Regions from separate parts of the Homo sapiens genome. Here region 1 is linked to region 2. Evidence: fine-mapped expression QTL. A gene starts in region 2. The other region holds a variant in brackets. All regions are shown on one strand. Distances are from middle to middle. Region 1 has its middle 35 kb from the start of GTF2H5. Region 2 holds the start of GTF2H5 (general transcription factor IIH subunit 5).

What was found.
Region 1: its variant is fine-mapped to the expression of GTF2H5 in whole blood (INTERVAL, PIP above 0.99).

What each region holds. Positions count from the first base shown.
Region 1 is chr6:158,202,193-158,205,110 of GRCh38, reverse strand. No RefSeq gene overlaps it. Among named protein-coding and RNA genes, the nearest start is that of GTF2H5, 35 kb to the right of the region's middle. The variant C/T (reference allele first, on the strand shown) is at 1,198.
Region 2 is chr6:158,166,711-158,169,628 of GRCh38, reverse strand. GTF2H5 (general transcription factor IIH subunit 5) reads right to left here and starts at 1,279. Exons shown (of 3, transcript NM_207118.3): 1 at 1,234-1,279. SERAC1 (serine active site containing 1) reads left to right here and starts at 1,367. Exons shown (of 17, transcript NM_032861.4): 1 at 1,367-1,489. RefSeq lists silencers at 1,280-1,459, 1,500-1,569.

The DNA.
Region 1 (2,918 bases), 35 kb before region 2:
GTAATGAGCCTGGCTTTATTTTGCTAAAGGCGCATTTGCCCCCGGTTGGCATCCTAAAGCTTCTTCACATTAATGCCAGACCTTGTCTTTAATCCCCAAGTTTCTCCCCGGAACGGGGGTGGAAGTAGAAAGGAGTTTTAGGTCAGTGTTTGTGAGGTGCTAGGTGGATTGACAGCTAGATAATGAGTGCCGGGGAGACCCTCATCTGACGCCTTAACTTGCCATTTCTGTGGTTCCTGGAGTCAGCTTTCAAATCCTCCCCCTTGCCCCACAGTGGCTCCCTCATGGCCAGATTTAATGTGCATCCGACTCCTCTGGGAAACCCGGTAAGATGCAGATTCTGATTCAGTTAAGTTAGGAATGCGCTCCCAGGTTGGGGCCAGTGCTGCTGGTCTGGAAACCCTCTTGGTTTCTCAGGTCTCTGGAGCCTCCAGACTCCTCTGGCAGTGGCAGAAAAGAAGTTGGGGACTCCCCAGAGAAACCTGGTTAGTGGAAGAAAAGGGTACTTCCTTCACGGGGTCACTGCTCCTCCGAGTGGATTGTGGACTCACGGAGGGACGTTCTAGAACACTCTAGCCTGGCAGCCCAAAATTTGGCTTTCCAGGGAAGAAGAGGCCTCAACTGTGGTGATTCTGAGGCTCTTGGTTTCATAAGAAGAGAGGAAGATGCAGAGGGGACGGGGAAGACCTTTGATCATCACTTGAGGCCATGGAGTTTGTGGGCTTTGGGAGTGCTGAGGCTTCCTATGGACAGCTGTTCTCCTGGAGACCCAAGAGAGAGACCTGGCCCTCCCCTCCTTTAAGGCAAAATGATTTCAACATCACCTCACCTGGCTAACTTCTGGTGCATTTGGAATCCCTTCCACAGGGCTTGGCCACCTGGCAATGTGTAGATCTCAAGATCAGCTGTTAGAACTAATATTATTTTTAAAAAACTTGTTTGAAGAGTTAATGTGTTCAGCTGCTTTTGTTCTTCCCAAACGGAAGTGTCACATGAGCAAATAACATACTCTATGATTTGGGGATGGCAGAAAAAGAATCACCAAGCAGAATAAACTTCTATTTTTCTTTGGAGCTCTGTTAAGTACCCCATTGGACTGAATCTGGGTTTTAAGGAAACAGAAATCATTACAATCTACAAAGCAGTCGTATTTCCTTCTCATTACTCTTCCTCAGATTACTCCCTCTGCATTAATTC[C/T]TCCTGAGGATACGATTCAGAAAATGTGAACTGCTCAGGTCATCACGTTTCAAATCCTATGCCTGTCTTTCTTGCTGTGTTGATTAATATTTTCGGCTGTGCCTGCTTAATTGTCAATCAATAATGTTCCTTTCTGGCTTCTGCCAATATTTTATGTTCATTTTAGAATTTCCAATACAGAAGTTTAACCCAATATATTAATATCAATTTAGCAGAGAGAGTATATCTCCTAAAACATTACCACTTGTGAAGTATTAGAATGTTTATTTATTTATTTATTTATTTATTTATTTACTGAGACAGAGTCTTACTGTGTCACCCAGGCTGAAGTGCAGTGGTGCAGTATCGGCTCACCACAACGTCTGCCTCCCTGGTTTAAGCGATTCTCCTGCCTCAGCCTCCCAAGTAGCTGGGATTACAGGTGCTTGCCACCATGCCCGGCTAATTTTTGTATTTTTAGTGGAGATGGGGTTTCGCCATGTTGCCCAGGCTGGTCTTGAACTCCTGACCTCAGGTGATCTGCCCACCTCAGCCTCCCAAAGTGCTGGGATTACAGGCGTGAACCACCGTGCCCGGCCTAGAACATTTTATCAAGTATAAGGTTCTAAAACATCTGGTGTGAATATTTGTTATTAAGGACAGTTAACTTTGCCAAGTACTTGGGATTAAATTAAATTTGGAGATTAAATTTAAGTTTTTGTGACCTGAAGATTTTAATAATTTCTAGACACTTGCAGGAACAAGCCTGTCAAGAGAATTTATTGTATATCTTTTCTTCTTAACTAACAATCAAATGATCAATTGATAGATCAATTGGTGTATTTATGCAATACTTATTATCCCTTTCAAAAAAACGGTTTTGGGTTTGGGGAAGGAGACAGTATATATGCCATAAAGCAATCAGTTCAAGAAACTTGACAATCGAATACTTAATCATCATGAGGAGAAAGATATTGATGATAATGAATCTTTTATCTTTTAAAGGGAATCTACTGTCAGTTTTGTTCCACTTAAAACTTTGGGAGACGGATACATATAACACATATAGAATATTATCTATCCATATGGTCATGGTCTCTGCCTCATTAAACATTTTTCTTTTTCTTTTTTTTTGTTTTTTGGAGACAGAGTCTCACTCTGTTACCCAGGCTGGAGTGCAGTGGCATGATCTCGGCTCACTGCAATCTCCGCCTCCCAGATTCAAGTGATTCTCCTGTCTCAGCCTCCTGAGTAACTGGGATTACAAGCATGCACCACAACGCCTGGCTAATTTTTTGTATTTTTAGTAGAGATGGGGTTTCGCCATGTTGCCCAGGCTGGTCTTGAGCTCCTGAGCTCGGGTGATCCCCTGCCTTGGCCTCCCAAAATGCTGGGATTACAGGGTTGAGCCACTGCGTCCGGCCTAAACATTTTTCTTTAACTTCTATTTCTCTATGACACCATCACTTTGGGTGTTTGAGCTTAGCTACTCAAAATGTGACCTGCCAGACAGCAGCACTGCCATCCCCTGGAAGCCTTCTAGAAATGCAGAATCTCAGGCCCCAGCCCACACCCACTTAATCGGAATCTGCATTCTAAGGACTTCCAGATGATTTGTAAGTACTTTAAAGTTGAAAAGCACTGATATAGACTAAGAAGCCCTCAAAGGCATATCTGCCTCAGTCAAGACCATAACAACTTTATGCTGGAAAATTTTCAGAGTGGCTTTTGGACCAATTGCC
Region 2 (2,918 bases):
ATATATTATATGTAATATACAATATATGTAATATACAATATATTATATATAATATACAATATATTATATATAATATACAGTATATTATATATAATATACTGTATATTATATATAATATACAATATATTATATAATATACAATATATTATATATAATATACAATATAATATATATAATATATAATATATATAATATACAATATATTATATATAATATATAATATACAATATAATATTATATATAATATATAATATACATATTATATATATGTATTATATATAATATACGTATTATATATAATATACATAATATACATATTATATATTATATATAAAATAAATATATATTATATATAAAATACATATATAATATATATATATGTATATATACACTTCGAGACAGAGTCTCACTCTGTCGCCCAGGCTGGAGCGCAGTGTCGTGATGTCGGCTCACTGCAACCTCTGCCTCCCGGGCTCAAGCGATTCTCCTGCCTCAGCCTCCCAAGCAGCGGGGACTACAGGCGCCCGCCACCACGCCAGGCCAAATTTTGTATTTTTAGTAGAGGCAGGGTTTCACCATGTTGGCCAGGCTGGTCTCGAACTCCTGATCTCAAATGATCCACCTACCTCGGCCTCCCAAAGTGCTGGGACAACAGGTGTGAGCCACCGCGCCAGGCCAATTTATTGTATTTTTAGTGGAGACGGGGTTTCACCATGTTGGCCAGGCTGGTCTCGAACTCCTGGCCTCAAGTGATTTGCCCGCCTCGGCCTCCCAATGTGCTGGGATTGCAGGCGTGAGCCACCGCGCCCGGCCTCAGCCACCTCATTTTACATATGAGGAGACCAAAGGAAGAGATTAAGCCGTAGTTCCTGGCCAAAGGAAAAAAGTACAAGCCAGATCTCCAGATCTTGTGCCCCTTCACTAAATAAATCACGTCCCGTGCGGACCTAGGCTGGAAACAAACCACTCAGCGTACGCCCATTTAATTAACTTCCACTTACACCTGGGCGCAGGGCGAGCCCTAGCCCCACAGGAAACCCACGATTAAACGAGGGGGGGACTGCCGTGCGGCCCCGCCAGGAAGGGCCCGGAGAGAGTGGGGGACACCGCCCTGTGCCCCCAGCACCCGGTGGACAGGCTTCTGGGGCTTTTCTCTTCCTCTCCCCTTTCTTTGGGACCCCTCAGTGTTCCCACACCCCACTTTCCCCAGCCGCTCGGACGCTCGCCACACACCTCGGCCCACAGATGCAGAAGCGCCTCGGCGTTGCCGGCAGAGTGCGCCTGCGCCGATACGCCATCGCGCTAGGGACGCTATTGTGGGTGGAGCCAGCCGGCGGGAGGCGGGCCCAGAGCGGGCCGAGGGGGCGGGGTCACGAGCCGCCAGCCGCCGGGTGGAGGGTCCCGGCCGGGAGCCGCGGAAAGAGTAGGGCTCCCCAGACAACGGGGTCCGACGAGCAGTTGGGCACGGGCTGAGTCCGCCTGCCGGCAGGTAGGACGTGAAGGCAGGGGTGGTGTGGGGGCGGACGGGGGCGTCGGCGCAGCTGGGCGCGGTGGGGAGCGGAGAATGGGGAGGGCAGGGACCGGGCACGGCCGAGCACCGCCGTCTGGCGCGCGGACCGGACCGACCAGCTGACGCTCGGCTGGGCGTGAGGGCCTCTCTCTCTGGTGGTCGCGAGCCTGACTCGTCTTTCCCTGTCGCTGCCTTTCTCTGGCTGCTGTCGAGGCCTTGGGGAGTGCACCTGCCGGTCCGTCTTCCCGGGCTCGGTAGTCACGGAGAGATGAGGAGGAGGAGGAAAGGGCCTCACCAGTCACTTCTGAGCCTTGCAGACCACCGCTTCCTGCTCCCTCTCTAACCCCAGAGATGGAATAGATTGAATGCTGAGAGAGCTCTAAACTCGGCAACGGTCATTTTAAAGTGAAAGACCCCAGAAGGTTCTAAAGTTACTCCCTTTCCCCAAGTCTGTTCTGTAAGTCTAAAGGAACACTGTCATTATTTTTACTAGTTGAGATATGAGATTCTTGTTTTCTGTTCCTTAGGTTAAATTGTACTTCCCGCATTAAGCTCATGCTGCCTTTTTTTTTTTTTTTTTTGAGATGGAGTCTCGGTCTGTCTGCCAGGCTGGAGTGCAGTGGCGCGATCTGGGCTCACTGCAACCTCCGTCTCCTGGGTTCAAGCAATTATCCTGCCTCATTCTCCCTAGTAACTGGGATTACAGGCGTGCGCTACCACGCCCGGCTGATTTTCGTATTTTTAGTAGACACGGGGTTTGTCCATGTTGGCCAGGCTGGTCTGGAATTCCTGACATCAGGTGATCCCCCGCCTCGGCCTCCCAGAGTGCTGCGATTACAGGTGTGAGCCACCGCGCCCGACCTCATGCTGCCTTTTTTTTTTTTTTTTTTTTTTTAACATCGTGTGTGTTCATGTGATCGCTAAGGAACCCAGCTCTTCCATTTAGTTCCCTCTTTCTATCCCTCAAATCTTTTCCAACTGGTGATTTCCATATTGTTGCACTCTCTTTAAAATAAAAAAATTGCCTCCAAGTCTTCTTCTTCCCAAGTATCTTTTATTTGCTTTTTTTCATCTTGCATACATTCTCTTCCTTGATCTCATCAGTTCCATTTTTGTGCACTTGATGTGTGTCAGCTATTATTCTAGACGCTTGGGATACAATGGTGAACAGGTAACTAATTTTGGTGGGGGCAGAGAGACTCTGAAATCAGTTAAGGAATAAGTACCATTTGGTGATGTGATAAAGAGTGACTAGAGGGGTTATTTTGGCCAGGGGGATGTCAGAAATGGCCTTAATTTCTGCATTTAAAAACTTCTGTATACCAGTAACAATTAACTAGGAGTTTTAATAATAAAAAGACACTATTCATAATGGCATTCAAAACTAAAGGTACCTAGAAATAGATGA